Regions from separate parts of the Homo sapiens genome. Here region 2 is linked to region 1. The links come from fine-mapping of genetic effects on gene expression. Tissue or cell type: monocytes after R848. Region 1 holds a variant in brackets; the other region holds the start of a gene. All regions are shown on one strand. Distances are from middle to middle.

Evidence for each region. PIP is the estimated chance that this variant, and not a neighbour inherited with it, causes the effect.
Region 2: it holds the start of FEM1B, and the variant in region 1 is fine-mapped to the expression of FEM1B in monocytes after R848 (Quach 2016, PIP 0.95).

The regions. Positions count from the first base shown.
Region 1 is chr15:68,180,823-68,185,082 of GRCh38, reverse strand. PIAS1 (protein inhibitor of activated STAT 1) reads right to left here. Exons shown (of 14, transcript NM_016166.3): 12 at 3,729-3,871; 13 at 1,416-1,453. It overlaps LOC105370871 (a long non-coding RNA gene), which reads left to right. Exons shown (of 2, transcript XR_932396.3): 1 at 1-1,815; 2 at 1,932-2,785. Among named protein-coding and RNA genes, the nearest start is that of CALML4, 22 kb to the left of the region's middle. The variant G/ACACACACACACACACG (reference allele first, on the strand shown) is at 2,593.
Region 2 is chr15:68,275,350-68,279,349 of GRCh38, reverse strand. FEM1B (fem-1 homolog B) reads right to left here and starts at 1,605. Exons shown (of 2, transcript NM_015322.5): 1 at 685-1,605. The coding sequence starts at 932. RefSeq lists enhancers at 766-965, 708-1,609 and a silencer at 996-1,325.

The DNA of each region.
Region 1 (4,260 bases):
ATGAAATGAGGATGTGTGGGAGCATTATCAACAAAAATCATCATCTTGAAAAGTATGTTACTCTCTCAACAGTACTTCTCCATTTTGCTGGCACAGCAATTCGGGAGGACATCCTGGAAGAAAAGCTGGGTCATCGATGACTTCTTATTGCTCCTGTAGTACACGGGCAGTGTGTGCTTGCTGACATGCTTGAAGGCTCTGGAGTTCTCACTGTGCCAGATCACAAAGGGTTTCAATTTGTAGCCTGCAATATGGCCCCAAGCAAGACTGTTATCTTGTCCTTAAAAGCCTTGAAATCTAGCATTGACTTGGCTTCTTTATGGATGAAAGTCCTTTCAGCCATTTATTTCCAGAATAGGGAGGTTTCATGCGTATTGAAAATTTGTCTGGCAAGTAATCTTCCTTCATAATCAGCTTATCTAGAGTTTCCAAAAATTCTTCAGTTGCCTTCACATCTGCATTTGCAGACTCTCCACTCACTTTGATATTACATAATGAATAATGATTCTTCAATCGTTTAAACCACCCGGAGCTAGCAGTACATTTAACACTGTAGTTGGGTCCAGTCTTTTCTTTAAGCATTGCAAACAAACTTTTTGCTTTGGCCATGATCATTATGGTGCTGAGAGGGATATGTTTCTGTGTCTGGTCTTCAATCCAGGTCACTAACAAGTTTCTCCATATCTGATACAGGCCCTTCTCAAATTTTTGTTAGTCTTGTTGCCTTGAACAAAGCAGATCCTTTAACAGCTTCTATCACTTTGTTCTTGTTCTTTAAGACTGTAGCTATGGTAGAATGGGACTGCCTGACTGGTGAGCAATAACTATCACTGATCTTCCACTTTCATCGTCCTTAATCACTTAATTTTTTTCCATGTCAGTCACTCGATGTGGCCTCTTACTGGCAACATTAGCTGTGGATTTTGTATGCTTAGGGGCCATGATGAACAAAACAAGACAAGATTTTCATCAAGCACAAGAGGAAATGATGCAATCAAGAGATGTGGCAAACTGGGATGTATGAGGCTGTCCTGGAATAACATGGCACACTGTTTTACAGCAAACTTAAAAAAAAAAAAAGTAGAGGTACACTCTAAAATAACAATAAAAAATATAGTAAATGCATAAACCAGTAACAGAGTTGTTTATTATCGTTATATTGTACATAATTATACGTGTGATACTTTTACATGACTGACAGCATAGGTTTGTTCACACCAGCAACACCACAAACATGTGAGTAATGCCTTGTGCTACAATGTTACCATGGCTATAATTGATGTAGGGATTTTTCAGCTCCATTATAATCTTATGGAATGCATATATGGCCTGTCATTGACCAAAATGTCATTATGTGGCGCATGACTGTATTTTTAATGTACAATTAAAATAATAGTAAATTTTTCATAACATACCTGATTGTCTCCTGATAAGAAAGGAAAGAAATCTAATCCTGTGGAAGAAAAAATTATTTCAGTTTAAAAAAAAAAGAAGGAAAAACTCTTCCAAATGCCCCAATACTTCAAAAACAAATACAAGTCTTATATGCTATGTCACTCAGAATTTTATTTAAACATGAAGAGTTGAGCTAAACGTTTTACGTCTCTCCTTTCTTTAGATTACTAAGGCTGAAAACTAAGCTTTGGCAATGATTTGTCTTCTCCGTGACCCCATTTGGGGGACTGGGGCCATTACTACTCTGTCAGATCTAACACTGATCCTTAAACGGGCATAGTACTTTTAACAAATGCTCTGGACTCCTCTTAAGGAAACTTTCAATCTGCTCTAAGTTACTCCTCACAAGCACTTCATGAGGTATGTAATTAGTTTTGCCCTCATTTTGCAGGTGAGAAAGTTTGAAGTTGAAAGAGTTAGGTTAAGTAAGTTGTAGTACTGATTTTTCTTTCTTAAATTTGCTCATTTGCTATCAGATTCAACTGACAGACTGCAGTGGCATGAGGGGAGAAGAGGTTTGAGTGCCTGCAAACTGGCTACTATTACATAAGAAGGAGTAGTTCTGCTACCTGGCTGCTGAGGATTCACTGCAAGGAGGCCCCTTCCAATTAACATTCTTTTCTAGATCACCCAGTGTGTAATGCGATGAAGAGCAAGTGAACAAGCATGAATTAAATGCTTCATTATGATATCTAAACTTGGGGAAAGGTAAAACACGCAGCTATAGATAAATATATTACAACACCACAGATACTCTGGGCATCTACTCACTGTCTACATTATAACCGATTACAACACGAAGGCTTACAAAATGCATAGCACTGTTGTTCTTGATAGTGACAGTGCGTTTCATACATGTAGAAAAAAAGGTATAGAAAGATATCTAACCGTTAAGAGCAGCTGTAACTGGCTGGCCGTAGTGGCTCACGCCTGTAATCCCAGCACTTTGGGAAGCGAAGGCAGGCGAATCACCTGAGGTCGGGAGTTTGAGACCAGCCTGACCAACATGGTGAAACCCCGTCTCTACTAAAAATACAAAATTAGCCAGGCGTGGTGGCACATGCCTGTCGCGCCATTGCACTCCAGCCTGAGCAATAAGAGCAAAACTCCGACACACACACACACACACACACACAC[G/ACACACACACACACACG]CAGCCTGAGCAATAAGAGCAAAACTCCGACACACACACACACACACACACACACACACACACACTAGCTGTAACTTCCCGGGAATGGGGTTGGGGGATAGGTAGAGGGAAACTTTCACTTTATGTTTCTGTGTTGAATTTTCTACAATGAGCATATATGGCTTTTTTAATAAAAAAAAGTTCTTAGATTATATGACTAATATTCAAATTATTATGCTACAAAGATATAAAAACAATTCTTTTTGATAATATAAATGATTATTATGAACTCAAAATATATAAATGAGTATACTGACATTTCAAACAGCTTTTAAAAAGAAGGATCAGATAAATGTATACACCTAGTATGTACCCACAAAATTAAAAAAAAAATTTTTAAGAAGGATCAAATTCATTAGAATAAAAACTAAAACTTTCAAATGTCTCAACTCACCATTATCTAAAACATAATACAACATAGTTACCCACAATGCCTGTTGCATTACAACTAAAGTCAGGGTACAATAAATAATGTTCACAGGGCTGGGCGTGGTGGCTCACGCCTGTAATCCTAGCACTTTGGGAGGCCGAGGCAGGAGGACCACGAGGTCAGGACCAGCCTGACCAAAATAGTGAAACCCTGTCTCTACTAAAAATATAAAACATTAGCCTGGTGTGGTAGTGGGCGCCTATAATCCCAGCTACTCGGTCGGGAAGCTGAGGCAGGAGAATTGTTTGAACCTGGGAGGCGGAGGTTGTAGTGAGCTGAGATCGTGCCACCGCACTCCAGCCCAGGCAACAGAGCAAGACTCCGTTCCCCACGGCAAAAAAAAATAATGTTCATAAATACCAAAATTCAAACCCACATACTAGCAGTCATTCAAAAACAATTTGCAGAGTACTCAGGAGCTCACAAAAACTAAAGATTATTGCACTAGTTTTACCACTGGGAGTAAAACACTGGCTACTGATGACAGTACAATCAACGAACTGGGTCAGTATTTATAACAACGGCATATTATTTCTCTCAGTTCCCTGGGTCCAAGGCCCTGTTGGCTCAGTCTTCCAGTTCTTCCTTAGATTCACCTAGAAGAGAATTATATAGATCAAAGGCATTCATAATGCTATGTGACAATGTAGAAGAACCAGTGACTCACCTTGTAAGTCGTAAGGCATGGGTGTCATGTGGAAAGGATGCCTATAGTCTTGGATGAGGGAGGTATTAATGTAGCTTGTGTCTACAGCAGGAAGGCTTGGGGTGCGGGATACTGGAGATGCTTGATGTGGAAGACTTAAAATGCTGGAAGAAGGAAAGATTGGCATAGTTTTCATTAGCCAGTTAAACTCTCAAGGTTAACAAAAAAAGGGGTTGTATCTCACAATGAACCCTCGGTTTAGTGCTGGAAATAAGAACAAAACCAAGCAAAGCAATGTATAATTTAGATTATACACAATTATGAGAAAATAATTTGTATACATAATAGCATTTAACAGAGGCCACAGGAAGAAGTGGACAGATGCAATGGTATCCAACATTCACAAACCTCACATTGCCTTTGGAATATCATCACCTATGCTTTCAAAATGCAAGAGAAAGGTACAGTTGAGCCACTTTAACGGGATATGAGTGAAAGATACCTACATCAAATGAAAGTCGGAAACCCTTTTAAAACAACACCAGAGTATTGG
Region 2 (4,000 bases), 94 kb before region 1:
ATCAAGCTTCCCCACAACATCACGGGATAAGATGTAATTTAAGAATGGCATCATCTCCCACATCAGGTCCAATGCCATCTTAGTAGCCAATATATCTACACCGAGCAACGTGGAGGAATCAGAATCATGTCTTGAGATGTCTGGCTGCGTGACAATCCCTCATGATGCTGCAGCTGCTGCTGGTTCTAGGTGCTTATTTTGACATTAAAGCCCAGCAGCCCACTGAAGGTTTTACGGAACCACTCACTTGAAGGGAGTAAAAATGGATGCCCAAATAACTCTTTCGGAGTTCTTCAATGTTAACCGCTGACCTCCTTAATTTCTGATCAGTTACATCACCAGTTCCACTAAAAGTAAAACCTGGAAAGGCAGCCACCTCCTCCAAATGGCTTGTTCACAGACTATCTAGTAGAGAAGACGACTATTAGATTTCAAGGCCGAGGGTGTGGTTATCTTCCCACAGAGGGAATGAGGGGTAGGGGCTGATGAGGACGGGCAGCAAAACATGGGATGGATTATTAGCCCTGGAAGATGAAGTGGGCATTAGTGGGGCAGGAGGTGGTACAAAAAGGGGAGAAGTGAGTACCTACATGAAGAGAGGGTAAGAGAGGGTGAGGGAGGGGAGGGCCCGTGAATTAACGAGTCCGCGCGCGTCGGAGAGAGGCTGGCTTGGGATGTACCTACCCGTCGAAGCGGACGGTGCCAGTCTGCTGAGTCTGCACCCGGTAATGTTCTAAGAGCAAGCGTACCACCTTTGCGTGTCCATTGCGGGCTGCGATGATGAGGGGCGTGGAGCGCTGCCCTCCCTGCTGGCTGACATAGCCAAGCAGATAGCGGATGTCGCTTTCAGACCGGTTGAGAAGCAAGGCGGCCAGAGTCAGCACCTTGCCCTCGCTGGCCGCCTTGTATACATAGCCAGCCAGGCCCTCCATGGCCGCCGCCAACTCCAACACCCGTTTGGTCGCCACCGCTGCAGCTGCCGTGCGCCCCCGGAGGCCGCGTTCGCCAGCGCTTTAAACCTGGGCCCTCACAGCCCATTCAACAGGGCGCCGTCGCCGCCGCCGCGCCCAGGCAGCAGTGCGGCCCAGGGAAGGCGGAGACGCAGAGGAGGCCGAGTGCCGCGAAGGGCACGTCCGCGACCCAGCCCGCGCAGGGAGGAAGGCGGTCAGGGCCGCCCGCCAGGTCCCAGGCGCCGGCCCTGGACCGAGGGGATCTCCATGGCGGACGCCGCCCCGGGCCTCAGGCCGGACCCCTCCTTCCTGCGGGATGCGACAGGCGCGTGCCCGAGCTACGGGTCGCCGGCCGGGTCCCGAGAGGACCTCGCGCACCCCGGATGGCGAAAGATGGGCGCGTCTCTCCTGACCCGGCCCACCCGGCCTAAGGCCTAACACTGCCTCCTCCTGCGCTTTCCGCCCTTCGCCGTCCCTGACTGGAGGAAACCTGCAGGCTCTCGTCCGCCGAGCTCAGAAGTGCCAGGCGCTGCCAACGGCCCCGGAGATCCTCGCGTAGGGGCCCCCGGGGCGATGCGGAACGCTCCCGCAAGAGCGGCGCCGGAACTTGGGCGGGGAGGAAGACGAGCTTTCGCAGACAGGGCCGGGAGGAGAGGGCGGGAGCGGGAGGGACGCTAAGTGGGGTGTCTCCGCCTAAGCCGACCGGCGGGCACACGCGGGCCCGGTAGAGAAAGGTTCTGCTGCGCGTAGTTGGCCCATCCCGTTTGGGCCTGGATGTCCTCAATGTCCTTGACTCCTGGAACCTCCTCCTGGCCCCTAAACGGCCCTGAGGGTCTCCAGCCAGGGAGTGGGGGCGGAGTGAGGGCGCTAAGCTGATGGGCTAAGGAGACCACCCTATTTTACTATAGACGGTGCGGGTCCTGCTTCTGCCCCTGAGCCGGGGTTAGGGAAGGGGTTGCGCGTACTCGGAGGGTCCATTTCAGGAAAAGGGCGGCGTTTCTGAGTTCCCGAAATGTGGGAGGGCTTGAGAGCCACAACACCAGGCTCTGAGAAGGGACTGGAAGTACGGCCTGACTTTCCCGGAGAAAGGGGTTAAGTGTGAGAGAAAGATGGGAGCGAAGGGGAGCTGCGCTCGCGGTGGAAGGAGCGAGGTATCCTGGGAAGGAAAGCGAGTCCCGCGTTCAGACAGAGCAGGAATCTCATCCTGAGCCGGCAGAACCTCCGTTTTCTCACAGACATCACAAGATTGTTGTTAGGATTTGAAACGATCGTTTATCCAATGAATATTAGAGGTCGACTACGTGCCAGGCTCTGCTTAGCACTAGGGATTCAGTAATGGAACAAATAAGTCAACAAATGATAGACAAGATCAGTTGAACTGGTATCATTACCATTTGCTCTGAAGCAAATGAAATAGAATGATGGGGGCACTCATTTAGTTTGGGTGATCAGACAAGACCTCTATGACAAGTGACAAGAACAGACGGTATTCTAGGCAAAGGGGACAGCTAATATAAAAGTCCTGAGGAGGGAACAGTCTGGTGAGCTCGGAAACAGAAAGGTCAGTGTGGCTGCAGCAGAGTGGGCCACAGTAAGAATGATAGATGAAGTCAGAGGATGCAACACACGTTAGGGCCTAATAACCCATAGCAAAGGGTTTAAGTCTACTCTGTGATGGGGGCATTTGAAGGGTTTTAAAGAGGGAAGTGACAAGATGCTATTTGTGTTTTTTAAAAAGATCACTCTGGCTGCTGTATGGAGAATAAACTCTGGAAGGCAAGAGTAGATAGGGGGACAGGCCTTGGATTAGGATGGTAGGAGTGAATGGTAGGTGATGAAGCTTCTGGGACAGTCTCAAAAAACTCAATATGAAAGTGACTTCCTCCCTCTTCCTCCCTTCCCCAAAGGACAAAATTTACCATAGAGAAAGAACAAATGCATTTATGTGGCTCCAAGGGACTGGGCTCGGCTCAACAAGTTCACATACATTATTTTATTTGAACCCCACCATTCCAATTCTAGGAGGTAAAGGCCTCACTTCCATTGCAGCTATTGGTGGAGGTGTGGGTCACTTCTCAAATTCTCTCCATTCTACAGCTCAGCTTTACCCACTTATTGCAGATCCCTACAGAAACACGAGTTATTTTTCTCCTTACCATAAACAAAAACAGCATTGGCAATAAGGGCTGAAGGTAAGATTCTACTGGTAGCGTCTCTGAAATAGCTGATAGAGAAGTGGGGGAAGCTGGCTGGTTTATTTGGGGACTTCAGGGTCATGAAAAAACCCAGTGTTTGACAGGGACCCAGGCTTTTTGGTCTCGGATTCACACATTCAGATGTGTGATGACTTCCTTTTCTGGCTCCATACGGCAAGCATGCACCTCATCTACCATCTGTCTCCTCTCTGCCTTTCTATCTCTCTCTGTCTCTCCATATCTCTAACTCCGTCTCCCTACCACCCTCCCTCTCCTCTGCCAACACACTTTGATTACCTGGGCACAAGCTGACCTGGAGGAGTGCCTGGCTCTTTAGAAAAACCATCTCCTCATAGCCTTTTACCCTATTATGTTCCTGAATCATTCTACATTCTATTCCGAACCAACTTTCTGAAGAAGGTGATGTAAAAAAGTCCAGACACAGGCCCCTTCTTCCAGTTTTGTTTTCTAAGGGAGACCTGATTCATCCAGACTCATTGCTGAATAAGAGACTCCCTTCTTCCTCGTGCCCTCTCTACCTCAGTTTGGTGGTATAACTGGATGGGTACTACAAGGGGTGACTGCTCCAAGGGTCAAGCTAGAGAGGGGCTCAGAACTTGCATTGTGTGGCCTCCATCCCAAGATGGGAATACCTCTTTGCTCCAGCAGCCCAAAGTCAGGAGGTTTGGGCTGCTGTTTTCTTCTGTGTTTATCAAAGTTGCTTCGTATAGGCTTCTGGGCTCCCTTGGTTTCTTAATAGCTATTGGCTGACTGGAGACTATTTAGTTGCTTGTTTACCTGGGCTTAGAGGGTGACGTTTCTGTGGTCAGGTTGTGCAAATCTGGAGAGAGGATA